Linked DNA regions of Homo sapiens: all the other regions are linked to region 2. The links come from fine-mapping of genetic effects on gene expression. A gene starts in region 2. Each other region holds a variant in brackets. All regions are shown on one strand. Distances are from middle to middle.

Region 1 (5,124 bases), 53 kb before region 2:
TGGATCAGGCTGATCTCGAACTCCTGACCTCGTGATCCGCCTGCCTTGGCCTCTCAAAGTGCTGGGATTACAGGCATGAGTGAGGTGGACTGTTGACCCTTTTGATTTGTGGTTACAGATGCTTGGAAAAGCCTCACCCTTCCTGCTGTGAGGTACAGGTAGTCATGTGGCATCACCTCTAAACGTGTGCTGGGACAGCTTTCAGCTATGTCGACCTAATTTAAGGGGTCCTTCCTTGGGAGGTGGAAGAGCCTGGTGGTCAGGCACATAGGTCTGAGAGTCAATTGACAGCTCTCATGCAACAGCTAAACCATGTCTATGACCTTTTGTTTTCTCATCTGCAAATGGGGATTACGGGTTACTGACCTCATATGATTGCTGGAGAGACCAAATGAAACCACAGCAGTATGCTATGCAAACTGTCCAGCATGTGCTGCTCAGTTCATATAAATGCAAGTCCACGATCATATCCTGGAGGGTAGGTGCTACTAATAGCTCATAAAGGCAAAACTCACGTGAGGTCAAGGTAACCCCTGGAAATCCCTTAAATTGCCCACAAAGTATGAAGATACCATGTTAAACCTGGGCAATACAGCGAAAACCTGTCTCTACAAAAATACCAAAAAAAAATAGCCGGGCCTGGTGGCGTGCATCTGTAGTCCCAGCTACTTAGGAGGCTGAGGTGGGAGGATCACTTGACCCCAGGAGGTTGAAGCTACAGTGCGCCAAGATCACATCACTGCACTCCAGCCTGAGTGACGAAGCAAGAGCATCTCCGAAAAAAAAGAAAAAGAAAATACAGTGTTATTCCTGGCCCATAATGGAGACTCACACACCCTCTGGGTCCCACACATCGTCCTCCGCTGAGCACCTGATGAAGAAACCAGCTTGCACTTTGGAGCCGGGATGTGCAGAAAAGATACATTGTTTAACACACCCAGCAAGATGCCTATGCTGCTGAGGCTGATGGAGAGGACAGAGATCTCCAGCTCCCACCTGGGAGGAATCAGGGATTTTGTTTGCCTAGGTGCATGCCAGGTAAAGCAGCTCTCATGATGCTTTCGGTTTTGACTGTGACTCTAATGGATTAGAGAAAGCTCACTGGGCTGGGCGCGGTGGCTCACGCCTGTAATCCCAGCACTTTGGGAGGCGGGCGGATCACGAGGTCAGGAGATCAAGACTATCCTGGCTACCACGGTGAAACCCCGTCTCTACTAAAAATACAAAAAATTAGCCAGGCGAGGTGGTGGGCACCTGTAGTCCCAGCTACTCGGGAGGCTGAGGCGAGAGAATGGCGTGAACCCGGTGGGCAGAGCCTGCAGTGAGCCGAGATTGCACCACTGCACTCCAGCCTGGGCAACAGAGCGAGATTCCGTCTCAGAGAAAAAAAAAAAAAAAAAAAGAAAGCTCATTGTGCTAGGGTCTCATTTCATTCTCAGCCCTGTCTGGTTTGAACCCTTCTATTGGGGCCCAGAATAAAATCTGTGCCTGGGCTAGGCATGGTGGCTCACACCTATAATCCCAACACTTTGGGAGGCCAAGGTGGGAGGATCACTTGAGCTCCAGAATTCAAGACCAGCCTGGGCAACATGGTGAAACCTCATCTCTACCAAAATTACAAAAATTAGCTGGGTGAGGTGGTACACGTCTGTAGTTCCAGCTACTCGGGAGGCTGAAGTGGGGGGATCGCCTGAGCCCAGGAAGTTGGGGCTTCAGTGAGCAATGATTCCATCACTTCACTCCAGCCTGTGTCACAGAAAAAGAGACACCCTGTCTCAAAAAAAAAAAGAAAAAGGCCAAGTGCAGTGGCTCATGACTGTAATCCCAGCACTTTGGGAGTCAAGGTGGGCGGACCACTTGAGGTCAGGAGTTTGAAACCAGCCTGGCCAACATGGTGAAACCTTGTCTCCTCCAAAGATAGAAAAAAATTAGCCAGGCATGGTGGCGCGTGCCTGTAATCCCAGCTACTTGGGAGGCTGAGACATGCAAATCACTTGAACCCGGGATATAGAGGTTGCAGTGAGCCAAGATCACACCACTGCACACTAGCCTGGGCAACAGTGAGACTCTGTCCCCTCAAAAAGCAAAACAAAACAACAACAAAAAGCCGTAGCTGGGACCAAGGCAGCCTGTTTTCCCTCCTGAGCCAAACTGGGGTTTCCCTGAGGAAGATCTAGGGAAGGGTCAAATTCCACTGCCCACGTCTGCCCTCAGCGCGTCCCTTCTGGGAAACAAGAGCTGTTTATTGGTATTTATTATGCTTCTGTTGGGGCATACCCTTCCCCCTTCCCCCTTCCCCCTTTAAGAGGGGCAGCCAGGAACAAAGCCACCCCAGCTTGGAAGTGGCACCATCATAAGGGCAATTATCCAAGTTATCCAGCATGCGGGGCTGGGTCAGAGTTGAGACCTAGCCCTGCTGGGACATGTGCAGACGCGCTCAGACACCTGGGTTTTCCCCATACTTTTTATTTGTTAATTTCATCACCCCCCTCTTCTTCTGATGTGGTCCCCACCACCTCTGACATGCACGCATTGGC[TA/A]GGGCCTCTCACACTGAGGCTCCACGCGAAGGGAAGATGCAAAGTCCAGTCCCTCCAGGAGCTAGTGATGGAAGTCTTGGGAAAGGAGAGTCCCAAGTTCAAGAAGACAGCTAGGGTAGAAGGGAGGGAGGTCCTCAAGGGGTAGAGGACAGGAGTCCAAGGAGGTGGCTCAGGTGCGGGGTGGCGCCTCAGGAGAGCCCAGAAATCTTCCAGGCAGCACTGTCTGGAACAGGGCTGTGCACTGACGGTACCGGCATTTTCATCCCCAACCTCAGTGGCCCCCATGCCCACCTGGGGTGGGATCTCAGGCAGAGGTTTTGTCCCCTCTGAGGCTCCCCCACAACACGCCTCTGTTGTTCCAGCTTTGCTGTGTGACCCTGGTCCCCGGTGAGGTAACACCACCACTGAGCTTTATCCCTGCAGCCTGGGGGTCCTATTCACCTCTGGGCTGTCTCAGGGTGCCATCTGTCTCTTTCCAGCTGCTTCCCTCGCCAGCGCTATCAATCCCCCCATTCAATTTCTGCTGTTGAAATATTCAGTGTTTCTGTATCCCTAGTTGGACCTGAGTGAAGAGATGTCTGAAGGGCATCTCATGTCAAGAACCAGACTCTGATCTTCCTCACAAGCCTCAGTCTGCCCCATTCAATTAACGATCCCCTCAGCCACCCACAGTTCAGGCCACAAAGCTAGGGGTCATCGTGGTTTTGTCTCCTCCCTCACCCTGACATCCACACCATCATTTATATTCTTCCATACACATCCCACATCTGAGCCAGACTCCCTCATTGCCAGCACCCTACTCCAGCCCACCATCCCTGCTGCCCCTCTTGTCCCTCCGGTCCATTCTCCACAGCACAACTGAGTGACCTCTTAAATTTTTTTTTTTTTTTTGAGGTGGAGTCTCGCTCTGTCACCCAGGTTGGAGTGCAGTGACGCAATCTGAGCTCACTGCAACCTCCGCCTCCTGGGTTCAAGCGATTCTTCTGCCTCAGCCTCCCGAGTAGCTCGGACTACAAGTGTGTGCCACCATGCCCAGCTAATTTTTGTATTTTTAGTAGACATGGGGTTTCACCATATTGGCCAGGCTGGTCACGAACTCTTGACCTTGTGATCAGCCCACCTTGGCCTCTCAAAGTGCTAGGATTATAGGCATGAGCCACCGCACCCGACCCTCTTAAATTCTTAAATAGGTACATCGGATCCTGTCACTCCCCTTCATCAAACCATCCAACAGCTTCCCATTGCCCTGAGAATAAAACCCAAAACCCTATGTGGGGCCCACAAGGCCCTGGGTGATCCAGCCCCTGACTATCCCCAGCCTCATCTCCTCACACTTGATCTGGGTCACACTTACCAGTTTTCTGGTCCTTCCAATAAAACAAGCCTGCTCCCACCCCAGGGCCTCTGCCTTTGCTTCCCAAAGCTCTTCCCGTAGCTGGTTCTTCTCAGGCGTTCTCAGTCTAGCTTCTTTGAATGCCCAGCTGACTTCACCCCATCGTCCCTCACTGCCACATCCTCTGGAGGCCTCACAGTGCTTCTCCCTCTCTGAAGCCATCTTACTTGTGTGTGCACATGTGCATGTGTTCATGTGTGTATGCGTGTGGGGTGTGTGCATGTGCACTGATTGTCTCCCTTCACCAGAACCTAAGTCCCATGAGATCAGGGAACCTCGTCTCTTGGTTCCTGCTTTGCCCCACGCCTATGACAGTGCCTGACAGAGTAGGTACTCGATAAATAGCTGCTGAATGCAGAACAAAGGAGGCCCCATCTGGGCAACCCTGGGGGAAGGGGGCCAGTGGTCTCCAAGTAGACAGTGTCCAGGGGCCCCCAGGTGGAGGGACCCCAAGTCCAGGGCGGCCCTATCAGGTGACCCAGCTGCTGTGGATGAGAACCCTGGGCATGTCAGAGGGACATGCTGGTGAGGTTGTCCTGGCTCAACAGTCCCTTCCGGCCCGCACCAGTCCCATGCCCACTGCCCCCAGCACCCCCACCACCCCCACAGTACTCGTGCAGCCTGTGCCGCAGTGTGACGAGGGCTGACCCCAGGCAGGCGCCGTTGGGTGCATGGGGCCCGCCAGGCAGCTGGAGCAGCAGTGTGGCCACGCCAGCCATGCCATCTTCTGTGGGCTCGAGAGTGATGGGCCCAGCTCGCAGCCCAGCAGTGGTGGCGGGGATGGCTGGTGGGCAGCAGCCCCCTCCCATGGGTCCCCAGGGCCCACCGGCCCCTGTCAGCAGCAGGGGTGCCAGGAAGGGCTCAGAGCGGCGGAAGGCGGGAGGTGGGAGCCCAGCCGGCTTCCAGGCGGAGGCCGGGGCAGTAGGGTCAGGTGGGAAGCAGACGGTGACCTTGGCGAAGGGGCGGCTGGCCATCTTGGTCATCTCCTGCAAGTGCCGGCGCTGCTCCTGCCGCTGGTCCAGAGCCTGCTTGGCCTTCCAGAGGAGCACACAGAGTGAGAGGAAGAGGAAGAAGCAGGAGAAGAAGACGGAGAAGAAGACAAACAGGTCAATGTGGGCCTGGTCCTGCCGGAAGAAGAGCAGGCCCTGCGAGTCGGCTGAGCCGTTGGCGCCGGGCCCACTTGGGTCTCCCAC
Region 2 (5,144 bases):
TCTCATCCCACTAGCTTGACAGGAATGGCCCCCAAGCTGGGAACAGGTAGACATGCTATCACTGAGAAACAGGCCTTCATCCATACCCCACACAGCAGCCAGAGAGATCTTCTAAAACATAAATCAGATCATGTCCTCTCCCTGCTCAAAACCCTTCCATAGCTCCCCAGAGCCCCCAGACAAAGACAAAGCTCCACAGCCTCCCAAGGGAGGCCCTGCATGATCCAGGCTCTGTCACACCTCTGGCCTTTGCCCAGGACCTCCCCTGTCTGGAGGCCAGCTTTTACATCCACTACTCTGTGAGGCCTTCCTGGGCTTCTGCAGGTACTGCCTTTCAACTTCTCTTTCACCCCTGTATTGCCCTCAGGATACAGCTCAAAATCACAGAGCCCTACACCTGCTGGCTCCTCCCACCCTGCAGCCTCTGGCTCATTCGTTGTCTTGTATTCTATGTTTTTGTTTTTGTTTCAGATGGAGTCTCGCTCTGCCGCCCAGACTGGAGCGTAGTGGCACAATATTGGCTCACTGCAACCTCCAGGTTCAAGTGATTCTTGTGCCTCAGCCTCCTGAGAAGCTGGGACTACAGGCGCGCGCCATCACACCCAGCTAATTTTTGTATTTTTAGTAGAGATGGGGTTTCACCATACTGCCCAGGCTGGTCTCAAACTCCTGACTTCAGGCGATCTGCCGGCCTCGGCCTCCCAAAGTGCTGGGATTACAGGCATGAGCCACCATACCCTGCCAGTATTCTATGTTTTAACACACTGGATTTCTAGTTCTTCAAAAGCATCACTCTCCCGCTTCCCCGCCTTTGCACAGCTATTCTTGCCTGGAATGCCCTTCTGCTCCCTCGTACAGATGCCTCTGATCTCAGCTATACCCCAGGTTAAGCCACATGTCTTCACAGAGAAAGAGCCACTGGGGCAGGGTTCTGAGGCATGCATAGGAGTTTATTGGGTGGAAAAGGAAAACAAACAGCCTCGGAGTGGGTTTGTCTCTCCCACTGACTGGGAGCCCAGAAGGGTAGGGCTGGGGCCTTTCCTCCCACTCCTGACAGATTCCTATTGGTCCTTTAAGTCTCAGCTTAGACATTTCCTCCTCCAGGAAGCCTCTCTGTTCTCCCCGGCCCCAGATCAGGCACTTTCTCTGGGCTCTCCCAGGCCTCTGGGGTTCCTCCATCAAAGACCACTCTTGTCTCTCACTATTAATGTGTTTGTCTCCCCAACTAGACTCCAAGACCTAAGTCACCAGGGATTGCTGGAGCTGTCTCAGTCTGGGCTATGTCCAATGGGAAACATAATGTCTGGCACATGAATGACTGAAGAAAAATGCTTTTATTGAAGTACTTCACAAATAACAACAACAATAATCCTAATGCCATTTATTGAACAGTTACTATATGCCACACATCAGGCATGTTAAATACCTGTTTTCATTTCATTCCAACAACTCTATGAGGTGAGTACTGTTGTTATCCCATTTGTGGGGGAAGGAAACAGAACCTCAGAGAAAGAAAACCACCTGCTCAAAGTCACAAAGCTAATAATAAGAAGCCAGGCACAGTGGCTCACACCTACAATCCCAACACTTTGGGAGGCTGAGGTGCGAGGATCGTTTGAGCCCAAGAGTTCAGGACTAGCCTGGGCGACATGGTGAGACTCTGTCTCTACACACTCAGTTACTTGGGAGGCTGAGGTGGGAGGATCACTTGAGCCCAGGAGGTCGAGGCTGCAGTAAGTAAATTGTGTTGGTACCATTGCACTCCAGCCTGGGTGACAGAGTGAGGCCCCCATCTCAAAAAAAAAAAAAAAAAAAAGTAGTAGTAGTAGAACCAAATTCAAAGCCAAATGATTGGACCCAGACCCTGAGTTCTTAACAGTTACTCAGAAGGCCCGGCACTGATGCTCCTGTCTTGTAATTGTAAATCTGGGTGTAGGTGCATCTCCCCCACCAGACTTGGAGGCCTTCCAGGGCAGGGCCCAGGTTGGCTGCAACCCTGGGTGTCAGGCATTTTAGAGCAAAAGGCCTGGACCAGAACCGAGCTCTGGGAATGTGGTGAGTGGATGAATGCACACATGAATGAACTACCAGCGAATTAGTGAGTGACCCACGCGGCCCCACTCACCCTCGATGAGCCACTCGCAGTTGCCATTGACGCTGTAGTTGCCCGCACCATCCGTCACGAAGCCTGGCGCCTCCCGCAGCACCTGCCGCTGCCCCTTGCAGTCCCCCGCCCGGGCCCCAGGGGACAGCGACCCCAGCACGGCCAAGGCCAAAACCAGTGCCATGGCCAGAACCTTGCCCAGGGCCATCGCCGCCTCCTGCACTGACCCTTAGAGCGGGGACAGGCCGTAAAAACCTGGAGAGGACCCTCTACCCGGGGTGAGGCCCTGCAAATGCGACCTCTATAGGCATAACATGACCTTGTAGATCGAAGAGGTCCCGGAGACCCGGCAGTCCCGGCGAAGGGTACGGCCACTGCTGACAGGCTCTGGAAGCCGAGGGCTGAGCCCTATAGAGCGATGGAAGGCCCTGTATATGGAGTCATTATGGACGGGGCCGAACCCTAGGGACCGTAGGAGTCCCCTATAGACACAGGGCTCCATAGGGGGCCGATCCCATGAACAGTGCCCAGCATTACGGACTCAGGCTGCTGCAGGCCAAACGGACCTTATAGACGGGTGGGTCCCCAGGGGGCGAAGGGCTCTACGGCCCGGCAGGAGCCTCCATAGAGGCTGCGGGCCGGGACAGGCTAGGTTCGGATGGTCCAGGAGAGACTCCTCCAGCCGGGGGCGGGGCGCGAGCGGGTGCCGGGGGCGGAGCCCGTCTTCAGGGGTTCGGGCCTGGACCCCACAGACCCAATCCCTTTGCTCACCCACCCTCGCCTCCCTCCGAAGCCGGATGGGCCAGATCAGAGAGACGAGGGGACGCTTGGGCCAGAGCGGCCGCGGGAAGACCCGCTGTGGGAGGGCGAGGGGGCGGGAGCCGAGCAGCCGCTGTGGGAGGGACGGCGAAGAGGAGGCGAGAAGTTACAGAGCGGCCGGTCAGAGCGGCCCTGGGAGGACTGCGGAGCGCCCAACCCCAACCCTCCATAAAGGGAGACTTCCGGGGAAATCCCCGCCCATTTGTTCCCAACCGCATGCGCAGCAGCGTCCTCCTGGAGGGAGAGAAATACACATATGCGCAGTGCTAAGATCGTAACCCAAACTCTGGGTGCCTGTGGTTCAGCAAAGCATGGGCCACTGGAGGGCGCCTCTACCTCTGAGTGAGGAAAGGAAGGCAAAAATAAAGGAGCGGTGCAAGACCCTGCTAGATGTTTGATCATCTTCAATGTTCCCACATTCTGGGGCAACATAAAGATCAGGTTATACAGGCCCCTGCCTCCGGTTCCAAATTCCCATTTCACAGATGGACACACTGAGGTCCCGAGCCTGACATAGTTCTGGCTCAGCCCCGCCGCTGAACACCATCAAGATGCAAAAGAAGCCATGTTATAGATAAAAACGAATCCTTTTTTATTTTGGCAAGAAGGGGTAAAATGTCTTTCTGCCAGGGACCCGAGGGAAGGCCCCCGGAATGGAGATGCGGCAGATGGAGTACGGGTCCGAGGTCACAGATCCGAGGGAGGGTTTCAGGGTCGAGACCAGCATCGCAATATCCATCCCGGGGTCGCAGAGTCCTGGAGAGTCACAGGCAGGGTCCCGGCGGTCACCACGGGTGTTCCGGAGTCCAGCGGGGTCAGAGGTCTCGAAGGGGGCCAGGGGGCCGGAGGTCACGGAACAGCGGGAGCCCAGAATCCGGCGCCGCTCGGGGCAGGGGCTGAGGGAGGGGACGGGGAGAGCGGCTCCCGCGGGACCGTTTGGCACAGAGGGGAGGGGGGCGGGACGCAGCGTACCCAACCTGGGCGCGCGGGGTGGGAAGGGTCGGGAAGGCCGGGGATGGGCGAGCTCTCGGGCCGGGATAAAGCAGGGGTCCGGAGCCCGGCCGGGGCCCGGTCATGGCCCATGGGGCAGGGGCGGGCAGGGGTGCTCAGACCGGGGGTGCAGTGCCCCCGGCCGTGTGCATGCTGAAGTATTCGGTGAAGCCGGTGTGCGGCGCTGCCGTCTGGGGCACGAGCGGCTGGTAGGGCGGCGTCGGGCCGTCCCAGCCCGAGTCGGCCGCCTTGGGGAACCGAGCGGGAAGTGGGGGGGAGGCTGCGCCCGGCTCGGCCATGGTCACCACGCGGCCCCTCGGGGCCACCGCCGCCGCCACCGCTGTCTCCTCCACCTGCTTCCCGGCCTGGGAGGGGGGTCAGGGTCAGAGGCCGTCCGGGACCCTCGGGGGGCAGATGCGGCCCCGAAGGCCCGTCCCCCTCCCCCGGAGAACCCTTCCACCCCAGGTGTGGACGCACGTTGTCAGTCAGGGAAGGACTGGGTGGCGGGGCGCCTGGGCAGCGGGGCCAGGTACTCAAAGGGCGGCGTCGGGGCGCGCGGGGCGAACTCCGGCGGCGGCCGGGGAGCTGGGGGAGAGCCGCGGAAGGCGGGCGGTGGGGGCACGGCGCAGGGAGTCTGCGGGGGTGTGCGCAACAGCGCCAGAACCCAGTCAGGCAGGGTGGGCGCGGGCGCCAGGGGACGGTCGCGGCGCGGTGTTGGGGCGCGGGGAGTGCGAAAGGCAGGAGGAGGGCTCAGGGGTCCGGGCGCTGGGGGCGGCGGCGGGGCCGGGAGCGGGGTCAGGTACTCCAGGGGCGGCGCCAGCAGCTCCTCGGGCGCTGGGGCCGCGGGGCTTACGGAGGTGGCGGGCGGGGGGATGGAGAAGAGCTCCGTGAAGTTGGGCACCGAGTCGCTGATAAACGTCACGTTCCCATAGACGTGCTGCGGGAAGGCCTTGTCAGCGGATTGGCTCCCTCCGGGTCCAGGGACTCCGGCTGAAGCGATCTGCGACGTGCGCACGTGGTACGGGAAGTTCTTGTTGGCCGCTGATGGGCGGGTCATGATCTGAGGCCAGGGCCAGGAGCAGGTGTGAGAGGCACTGTCAGGCCGGAGGCTGTCCCCATAAACTTGGGGTCCGAAGGATTCCCTTTCAGTTGACATCCACCACACTTCCCTGAAGCCATTCACACTGGATTAGGCGTCCCCTCTGGGCTCTCCAAATGCCCTGGACCCTCA
Region 3 (5,144 bases), 41 kb after region 2:
TCCCGTTCCTTGGGTAGGGCACTGAGGGACTGGGTCCGACGTTTTCCGGGCGGTAGAGGCAACTGGATCTCAGGAGACATGATGGAGAGGAAGCTGCGGCGGGGCAGCAGGGACAGTGAGGGCCATGTCTCTGGCCATCCCACCCCCAAGTCCCAGGCCTCAGGGAACTCACGCATCATCATGGTCACTCTCTGTCTCACTGTCCAGCCGGGGCTCTCCTGGGGGGCCGGAGGCCTCCTCCTCCGTGGTGGGAGGCGGACCCTTACCAGATTCCACCACCCCCAAAGGGTGTGGGGGTCCGGGTCCTGGGCTCTCAGGGCATGTGGCTCCAGGGGGCCGCTCAGGGTCAGCACTCCCTGTCCCACCTGGTGGCCGTTCATGAGCAACAGCTGCCGACTCAGCAGGTTCTGGGGACACAGAGGTAGATCAGAGGGCTCCTAGGCCACCTGGACCCCACACCCTTGCCTCCCCCCAGTCCCCACCAGCCCTCACCTTTGCTCTGGTTGGAGGCCACTGGGTGGCTGGCAGGTTGCTGGGCCTCGCTCGGCTGCACGGAGGGGTCAGGCTGGCTGGGTGCCAGGAAGGGGACTAAGGAGTGCCAAGGGAACACAGCCACAGAGCGAGGTTCCACATTCGTCCACACTGTGGAAAGGAGCCAGGTGAGCTGTGCAGCAGGAGAGCCTGGCCCCAACCCCAACTCAAGCTCTTCCCCACCCTAGATGAGGTAGCCCCACCCCTTTTGTCTACCCCCCACCCCCAACACCAGAGCCTCTTGGACTCGTCCATGCAACGTCACTCAGGAAAAACTCCTCCCTGAAAGGTTTCTAGATTTATAAAAAAGAAAACAGAAGCAGGGAAGGGAAATAGTACTCACGCCCCACTCCTCCCCCCACCAATCTCCACCAGCCCTGCCACCAGGGACCAGGCCAGAGGAACGATTTGCTCCTGCCACAAACCAGGTCATGCTTGGCTGCCATCCCACACTCCCAAGGCCCCAGACCTCTACGGGCTGGGACCCCCACCCCCGTCATGCCACATTCCCAGCAGCCCAGTCGCCGCCCAACACAGCGTCTCACCTTGGCCTCATGCTCTCTTTCCCTTTCCTGAGGCATACGGCCCCACGTCCCCTCCCCTCCAACTCTCCGTTCACTATGCACAGGCTGTGGGGTCTCTTACAACTGTGGTGTGGGAGAGGTCCTGCTCCTTGCCTTCCTCCCCCACCACAAACACAGAGTGCCAGACCTGCCCTTCCTGGCTGGGCACAGGTGGCTCCAGCAGCTCTCTCCTTTGCCCCCACAAAGACAATGCACCATCCAGAAATCGGCCTCCCAGCCTCCCTTCCCCATCAGCCCCTCGGCTTATCTGTAGTCCAGGGTCCAGCCCCCTTGCCCAAAACAGGGGAGGGTGTGGTAAACTCCTTGGAAGAAAAACCACGGACAATGGGCCAGAAGAGAGAATTGTAACAAGTCTCTACCCAGAGAGGGCACAAGTGCCAGGTGTTTCCTTGAGGATATGCACAGGAAGATGCTTCCTCACCAAGAGGCTGGTCCCAGGGGTCCAACCTTCAGCCCCAAGAGGTGGGTGGTGGAAGAGCAAGCCCTAGGCTGGGACCTACCCCTGGCTGGACTTTTGGGGCGGGCCTAGGATACCAGTGGGCTTCCCCTCACACTGCCTGGCTCCCTGGGGGAAGTGGAACCAGCAGAGGAGAGAGGCCCCTGCTCGGGGAAGATGAAGAAGGGAGGAGGGAACCGCCCTAGCCCTGCTCTCCATCATTCCAGGCCTTCCCTTGATCCGGATCAACCTGACCTGAGGTGACCTCCCCATGCCTTCAGAAGCCTGGACAGGGGGGAGCTCTGTGCGAGGCACTGGCCTCGAGACCTGATTCTGAGAGGGGCTGACAAAGGAAAAAGTAGACCTCAGGAAACAAGGGACTGGGATCACGAAGACAGCACTGAAGAGCACTCAAGACTACGATGACCCTGTCCCTTACCCCTGAAAACC[C/T]GCTGGGCCCTCCAACCCCATATAAAAGCCTCCAGGGACTTAGACCTGTGCCTCTCTTTGCAAAGATCTTTCCCATCAAGGCCTCCTCTTTTCTGGGGGGTGGGGAAAAGGGACCCAGCAGACAATGGAGGGCAGTCCTTTGGTCCTGCTCCCTCCTGAACCCCTCCCCAGTGCACAACCCTCCAGGTTCTTAGGTGTCGCGCTCTCTGCAAACTACACCACACACTGCAGCCTGTCACTCTGATCTCAGCTAACAGTGCCTCACTCGCTTCCTGAGCCCTGTCCTTAGCCCCACTACCCAATCCAAGCCTCCTCCCCTAGGACCAGCAGGTCTCGTGCTGTTCCTATTCTACCCCATGCTCCAGAGCCAGTTACTCTGCACCCCTCACCTTTCTATTACAGCGGACCTGTGCCATCCCATCACTTTAACATCACAGCTGTCCCCAGATACGCCCCACTCCGCTACACTCCCACCTGCCATCACTAACCACTCGGCCCGGCCGAGCTCCGTAACTTTCCCCGTCATCCCTTTACTCTGCCTCTACTGTTCTCTCCCCTACTATACCCCCACCACCGTTACTCCGCACTTAGCACCCCGACACCTTGACCCCTGCAGTCCCAGGGCCCAGGCGCTACTGACCGAACATGCCGAGGCCACGGGAGGCCGCGCTGGACGCGGGCATCAGGGGCCTGTGGGCCGAATACATGGTCCGGCGCAGGGGGGACCCGGCAGGGGCTCGCACCTCCTCAGCGGCCGACGCCGCTCCGCCCGCAGCCCGCTCCTCGGCCGTCGCCGCTTGGGCCCGGGGGGAGCGGGAGGCCGTCGCCGCATGCCCCCCCCCCCGCCGCCCCCCTCCGGCCGCCCCACGCGGGGGTCTCTGCCGGGCGCGCCTGCGCACAGCGCCGCCTGCCTCCCGCCGCCCGGGGGGCGGGGGAGGTCAGCGCGCACCGGCCCCGCCCCGCCCCCCGGCGCGCGCGGGGGCCGTCACGGGGCGCGCGGCACGGGGGCCATCGGCACCGCCCCCTCCCTCTCCCTCCTCCCTCGCGGAGTCCGGCGGGCGGGGCAGGCGGGGCAGGCGGGGCGGGGCGCGACGCGCGTGCGCGGGGGCGGCCCCCTCCCTTCCCCGCTCGCTGGCTCGCTCGTTCCCTCCCTCCCTCGCAGCTCCGGCGGGTAACGGCTCTGGCCCCGCGCGTCCCGGCTGCCGGCGCCGCCGCCCCGCCTTTCCGGGCCCCGGGCCCGAGGCTCAGCGCCGGGTCGACCTCCGGCCCCGGGCGGGCAGACGGACCAGCGTGCGTGCGTCCGTGCGCTCCGAGCGAGCCCCGCGCCGAACCACCACCGCCTCCCCGCCCCGCCACTACTACGCGCTCCCCTCCCCCCGCCGCGCCTCCCCCCGCCCCTTCCCCGCTTCCCCCGCGGCCTTCCGCGCAAGCCCGGCCCCCCGCGCGTGAGCCCATTGGCTGCCGCCGCCGCGCGCGGGTCAGGCCCCGCCGCGCCCGCCCCCATTGGCCGCCCCGGGGGAACGTCAGTCATATGCAAATAAGGGCAGGGCGGGGCGGGCTCCGGTTGGCCCCGAGCCGGCCGGGGGCGGGGCCGCGGTAGGAGGGTGGCAGGGAGGGCGCACTGCAGTAAAGGCACCGAGCCAGGGGGGCGGTTCGGGGCGCCGCGCTGCGGAGGTCTCTGGGTTGTGCGTGGTGCTGTTGTGTGTCCAGTCCGCGCGAGGAACACGCTCACGCGCGGCTCGGCCCGCCTCCCGCACACCCGCCTGGGCGCGCCTGGCCCCGCTGGGCAGACAAACTGCGCGTAGGGCTGGGCGAGGCATCCTGAGCCCTCACCTACTCACACTCACACTCCTCACAGACATACAGACACACTTTCGTGCCACACCCATTATCTCCTACACACCCCACGGGCACATATGCCCTCTGTCTTACACCCACGCTGTCACACCTCACATACCTGCTCACACAGATGTACAACCTCACACGCTCACGGTCCATCGCTCCCCACCCACCATCGTGCATTCACCCATCCTGTTCACATCACCCATCTCATCCATGCCCTGTCACACATGCTTCGCCAACCCGCATCCTCATCACACCCCCACCAGCCCACATGAATCATGCAAACAGACAACATGTCAAACAGGAGGAACTCAGCATAGCCCTGCTTGTCCACTACACACACTCCACACCCCTCCCACACAACCACACACTCCTCCGTCACACACACAGCCTTCCTAGCACTCACAAAGCGCCTCCTATCCCCAGTGCACACTCAGCTCTCACAGACACCATCATACCGACCCCACCCTCTATATAATCCTACCCTAATGGGTGCTACCTGCTTCAGTACCCAGGCCCATCAGGTATACAGAGCTCAGTGGCCACCGCCATCATTCAGCCACCCACCCTGACACTCATTGGCCACTCTGGACCCTCTGTCTAGCAGTATAAGGCAGGGAACCACAGAGCACACCATGGCTGGCCCCACCACACTGCTCTGCCAGCCACCCACTAACCCCGCCCCCCCTCCCAGAAAAAAAGGGCCAGGAAGAAAGGAAACTAACACTTACTGGGGCTGCTGTGTGCTGGGAGCTTGTATGTATTATCTGGTTCATTGAATCCTCACAGCCACCTAGGGAGGTATGCTTTATTACACCCATTGTTCAGGTGAAAAAATGAGCCTCAGAGATTGAATAAACTGTGGCAAGATCATGCAGTCAAGATGTACCAGCCCAGAGCTCTAACTCAAGTGCTGTTTCCATTACTCAAGGCTTAACCTCAGGGTGGACCCAGGGAGGGAACTCCAAACAGAGGCTGGGGAATATAGTTAGACAATGATACAGAGCCACGTGGACCACAGAAAGGCGAGGGGGGCTCACACAAAGACACAGGCAAGGATGTGGAGCCCATCTGGCAGAGACCCAGAGGCCCTGGATCACCCAAGAGGGGCCCTGGAGCCATACCCAGTAAAGGCACAGGACTGGGGTCACACACTTGGGCACGTAAAGGTTGCACAGGCTCAGATGGACCAAGACTGGGCTCTTACACAGGTTGGATGGTCAACAGGAGCAGACGAGCCCTTTCCCCAACCTGCCTCATCCACTGACAGAGCTGAAGGAATGGAGAGGGGGCAAAAACTG
Region 4 (5,144 bases), 200 kb after region 2:
ATGTAGCATGCTTAGCACAGTGCCTGGAACATGGCAAGCACTCAGCCCTTCATGCCTGTTTCATTTGTGGCTGTGTAGGCATGACCATGGGCATGAGTCTTGGTTTGGTGGTGTGTGCTGTCCTATATGCGCCATTGTGTGCGGGCACCCGTGTGTCCTCCACCAACATGTATCTATTGAGTAGTTCTGTGTTGGGTGTTGGAAGTACAGTGGAAAGGGTAGCTCAGGTCTGTCCTCCTGGAGCTCCCAGTTTATTGGAGAAGACAGACCTGTCACCAATGACAGTACAGACAGGTCAGGGCTGGGATGGGGGAGGTCCAGGCAGAGGGATCAGGGCTGGGATGGGGGAGGCCCAGGCAGAGGGGTCAGGGCTGGGATGGGGGAGGCCCAGGCAGAAGGGTCAGGGCTGGGGTGGTGGGCACAGGCAGAGGTGTCGGGGTGGGATGGGGGGACAAAGGTAGAGGGGTTGGGGCTGGGATGAGGGAGGCCCCAAGCAGAGGGGTCAGGGCTGGGGTTGGGGAGGCTCAGGCAGAGGGGTCAGGGCTGGGATGGGGGGACATAGGTAGAGGGGTTGGGGCTGGGATGGGGGAGGCCCAGGCAGAGGGGTCAGGGCTGGGATAGGGGGACATAGGTAGAGGGGTTGGGCCAGGACGGGGAGGTATTAGGGGATCGTAGGAGCCCTGAAAACATGTGATTTAGTTGGTAGAGTGTCAAGGAGGGCTTCCTGGAGGAAGGGGGTGTCTGAGCAGGGATATGAAGAATGAGTGGGTATGAGCAAGCAAAGGCGGTGAGGAGAGGGGTGGGATGAAAGGAAGACTATTTGCAGGGTGACATGTTTATTTGTTGAGGTGACTGTGTATGCAACTGTGTATATGTGTGTGTGTCCATACAGTGTAGACACAGAGATCCAGGGTGTCTGCTCCCACTGACTCGTTCCTCTCTGGGGTTAAATGGGGACCTCAGAGGTGCTGGGCAGTAGGCTAAACCCTTTACTTGGGATTTCTCACAGAACAGCCCAGTGTGGGAAGACTGGGGTGAATTTTCCCTGCCTGGACATGAATTAATACACTGTGTGGCTGTGGGCAGATCACTCACCCTGCCTGGTCTCAGACTCCACACCTGTGAACTGGGTTCAGAGGTCAGCCCTGGCCATCTTCCAGGATAAGGTGACTCTGGGTGTATGTGTGTGCACTTGTGTTTGTGTGTGTGACTCTGTGTGAGCATGTGCATGTCTGGGTGTGTATCTCTGGCTGGACTGATGTGACTTGGTGTGAGAACATGTGTAAGTACATGTGTGCGTACACATGTCTGAGTCTGTGAGTGACTGGGTGTAGTATGTAGGGGGAGGGTGTATGTCTGTGTTCGACTCCGGGTGTGTGAGTTTGTATACTTTTTACGTGTGTCTGGCTGGCTGTGTGTCACTCAGTGTGAGAGTGTGTGTGAGTGCATGTGTGTACGCACGTTTGGGTGTGTGTTTTGCATATATGCCCGTGGCATCATGTCTGGGCATGTGTCGTATCTGCAAACCTGTTCACATTCCTGTCTGGAATCTGTGCACATCTGTTTCTTGTATTGTGTTGGCCGGGGCCTTGCCTGGCTGTGGCCATGGGGTGTGTACTGTTGGCAGCTCTTGCCTGCTGTCAGCGCAGCTGTGGGGCCACCTCTCTTGTTGTGTCTGCTGCCTGTATCTCCATCCCTCCCTCCTGACAACTCAGAAATGTTCACTCCCTTGAGGCCACCCAGGGACAGCTGTGGGGTGGGGAGGGGTGAGGTGCTGCTTCTGGGGAGGACGGGGGCTCGGCCAGCTGGGCCCACAGAGGTTCCCGGCAGCACCAACCTGCCCACAGGGGCTCCCAGGCCATACCCCTAATTGAAGCAGGCTGCGGAGGCAGGGGACCCAGGGGACAGGACAAGTGGGGCCAGGAGGGGTGAGGGGCAGTCCTTGGGCCCTCTATATTTAGCCCCGTTTTCGGTAAGTGCTAACGAGAAGCTGGCCTAAGTCTGCTAAAACTGGCGGGGGGAAATGCAGAGGAGAAGTGAAAGTCCGGGGAGGGAGGAGTGGGAGGGTGGAGAGGACCAAGAGTCCCAGGCCTGGGGCAGTCGGGCAAGTGAGTGTGAGCTCAGGGCTGGGCAGCCCTGGTTGAGGGGTGTCTGACCTGAGGAAGGTGGGATTCAAGGGGCAACATGGCTCCAAGGGGCCTGGTAGGGCTATGCATTGCTTTTTCTCTTTCAGTTCCCCTAAAATATTACACATTACCTATGATGAGGGGTGGGAATAGCCATACATAACCAACCAATCTTTTGTGTGTGAATGAGGCTTTGAGAGGGGCTTCTGAAGGTGCCAGGGGATGGAGCACATTAGAATCACCAGGAGGGGGCTGGGTGCGGTGGCTCATGCCTGTAATCCCAGCACTTTGGAATGCTGAGGTGGGCGGATCACTTGAGGTCAGGAGTTCGAGACCAGCCTGCCCAACATGGTGAAACCCCGTCTCTAATAAAAATACAAAAATTAGCCGGGCATGGTGATGCATGCCTGTAATTGCAGCTACTCGGGAGGCTGAGGCAGGAGAATCGCTTGAACCCAGGAGGCAAAGGTTGCAGTGAGCTGAGATCATACCATTGCACTCCAGCCTGGGCGACAGAGTGAGACTCTGTCTAAAAAAAAAAAAAGAGAATCACCTGGAGGGGCTTTTAAATATCTGGATGCCCAAGTCACACCCTGTACCACTGAAATCAGAGTCTAGGGTGGGAACAGGCATCAATATTTTTCTAGAGTTGAGTGATAGGCGATGGGCATCTCTGCCTGGGCTCAGGCTGAGGCTGAGGCCGAGCCATTTGATGGACCCTCCAAGTCTATGATTGCTAGTGCCCTGGAGTCCCTGTTAAGGCGTCATTTGGCTTTTAGTCCACGGTGGAAATGGAGCTCCCTGTTCATTCCTGGTGGAAATG[A/T]TCTGACCCTTCTCTCAGATTGAGCTCTGACAGGGGAGGTGGAAAGAGAAAAGACAAAGGGCAGCAGTTGGCCATTTTGTTGTGACCCAGCCAAGTGTGGGGCAGGGAGTATGCAGGGATATGTAGGAGTGGTTGGGATAATTTAGGGAGAATAAGGGTAACAGAATGGTGAAAAATTTCCCTCAAACCACTCTTGTCTTTCCAGCCACAGTCTCTGCAGAGGAAATCATACCTTAAAGATTTAAGTTAGGGTTTCTTGGGGATGTTGGGTGACAGTAGAGATAGGGGTTTGTTTTAGACAGGATTGGGCCCTGGTCAGTTAGGGGATTCTTTAATGCATTCATTCATTCCAAAGACGTACTCCTAGGCCTGTGCAGCAATGACTCCAGCCTGGGCTCCTGAGGAGCCCACAGTTGGGGTGGAGGTCTCTGCCCAGGATGATCAGGATGTGGTGGAGCACAGTACAGGGTCAGTGAAGCCCAGAAGAGAGAGACACTGACCATCTGGGGAATCAGAGAGTACTTCACAGAGGAGGTGACATTTGAGCTGGACCTTAAAGAGGAGCAAGAGTTTGCCAGTAGAGAAGGAAAGGGTCACCCAAGTGGGAGACGAGCAGAGGCAAAGGCCTGGGGGAGGGAGATCAGGACCTTGGGGCCACTGATCCACATGTCTTCTGCTGGGGAGTGTTTAGGAACCTGAGATCAGATCTGCCCTTGAAAAATTCCTAGTCTGATAGGGGAGACATAGTGGGGCCCGGCTAGCTACAGTCAGCCTCTAAGACAGTGACAAGGGAAGGTGCTAGGGTATGGGGAGCTGGAGAGAGACCTGGCTGGGAGCTGGGGGCATCAAGGTGGTGGTTTCATAGAAAACAGAGCTTATGGCCGGGCGTGGTGGCTCACGCCTGTAATCCCAGCATTTTGGGAGGCTGAGGTGGGCAGATCATGAGGTCAGGAGATTGAGACCATCCTGGCTAACACAGTGAAACCCCTTCTCTACTAAATATACAAAAATTAGCCAGTCGTAGTGGCGCGCACATGTAATCCCAGCTATTTGGGAGCCTGAGGCAGGGAATTGCTTCAACCCAGGAGACCTCTGGAGCTTGCAGTGAGCCGAGATCCCACCACTGCACTCCAGCCTGGACAACACAGCAAGACTCCATCTCAAAAAAAAAGAAAAGAAAACAGAGCTTATGCTGGGTTCTGAAGGATGAGTCCGGGGGTCGCCAGGTGGACAGATTGGGGAACAGTGTTCCAGACAGAGGGAACAGCCCATGCCAAGGCCTCAGGAAATGTTTTAAATGGCAAAGTGCAGGCATGGTGGCTCATGGCTGTAATCCCAGAACTTTGGGAGGCCAAGGCATGAGGATCATTTGAGCCCACGAGTCTGAGACCAGCCTGGACAACATAAGGAGACCCGTCTCTACAAAAAAAAAAAATTTTTTTTTTAATTAGCTGGATGTGGTGGTGCACAGCTGTAGTCCCTGGATGTGGTGGTGCACACCTGTAGTCCCAGCTACTCAGGAGGCTGGGATGGGAGGATAGCTTGACCCCAGGAGGTCGAGGCTGCAGTGAGCCGTGATTGTGCCACTGCATTCCAGCCTGGCCGACAGAGCAAGACTCTTGTCTCAAAATATAAATTAAATAAAATAAATAGCAGGGAGACAGTAAGACAAGGGTGAGAAGTAGTAGGAAACAGAGACTGCTAAAGAGAGGGACATTCAGCAGTTACAACCCGTTCTGGGCTTGTGATGCTGGGGACCCAGTGATGAGTCAGACCAGGCCTGTCGCATTGGTCTTGTGGGGAAGGAACCTGGACACAGACAGCCACAACTGGGGGCTCAGGGATGGGACAGCAGGAGGGCAGGGGCTGTGAGAGGCTTAGTTTGCTAGGGCTTCCACATCAAAGTACCACAGACTAGGTGGCTGAAATAAGAGAAATTCATTTTCACAATTACGGAGGCTGTAAGTTAAAGACGAGGATGTCAGCAGGGTTGGTCTCTTCCAAGGCCTCTCTCCTTGGCTTGTGGTCCACTGGTCTTCTCCTGGGTCTTCATATGGTCTTCCCTCTGTTCCCATCTGTGACCTAATTCCCTCTTTTTCTTCTTTTTTTTTTTTTTTGAGATGGAGTCTTGCTCTGTCACTCAGGCTGTAGTGCAGTGGCACGATCTCGGCTGCCTGCAACCTCTGCCTCCTGGG

The links. PIP is the estimated chance that this variant, and not a neighbour inherited with it, causes the effect.
Region 1: its variant is fine-mapped to the expression of MEGF8 in skeletal muscle (GTEx, PIP above 0.99).
Region 3: its variant is fine-mapped to the expression of MEGF8 in whole blood (TOPMed, PIP above 0.99).
Region 4: its variant is fine-mapped to the expression of MEGF8 in atrial appendage (GTEx, PIP above 0.99).

The regions. Positions count from the first base shown.
Region 1 is chr19:42,376,092-42,381,215 of GRCh38, reverse strand. MEGF8 (multiple EGF like domains 8) reads right to left here. Exons shown (of 42, transcript NM_001271938.2): 42 at 2,451-5,124. The coding sequence ends at 4,441. Among named protein-coding and RNA genes, the nearest start is that of CNFN, 12 kb to the left of the region's middle. The variant TA/A (reference allele first, on the strand shown) is at 2,538.
Region 2 is chr19:42,323,412-42,328,555 of GRCh38, reverse strand. It overlaps MEGF8 (multiple EGF like domains 8), which reads right to left and starts at 2,921. Exons shown (of 42, transcript NM_001271938.2): 1 at 2,126-2,921. The coding sequence starts at 2,312. It overlaps TMEM145 (transmembrane protein 145), which reads right to left. Exons shown (of 15, transcript NM_173633.3): 14 at 4,767-4,973; 15 at 3,492-3,819. The coding sequence ends at 3,739. RefSeq lists silencers at 2,256-2,325, 2,336-2,405, 2,626-2,765, 2,806-2,995.
Region 3 is chr19:42,282,269-42,287,412 of GRCh38, reverse strand. It overlaps CIC (capicua transcriptional repressor), which reads right to left. Exons shown (of 21, transcript NM_001386298.1): 3 at 493-642; 4 at 173-407; 5 at 1-93. Among named protein-coding and RNA genes, the nearest start is that of CIC, 16 kb to the right of the region's middle. RefSeq lists silencers at 3,449-3,623, 2,922-3,831. The variant C/T (reference allele first, on the strand shown) is at 2,002.
Region 4 is chr19:42,126,365-42,131,508 of GRCh38, reverse strand. The region is part of intron 1 of POU2F2 (POU class 2 homeobox 2); the gene reads left to right. Among named protein-coding and RNA genes, the nearest start is that of POU2F2, 3.5 kb to the left of the region's middle. RefSeq lists an enhancer at 1,512-1,621. The variant A/T (reference allele first, on the strand shown) is at 2,950.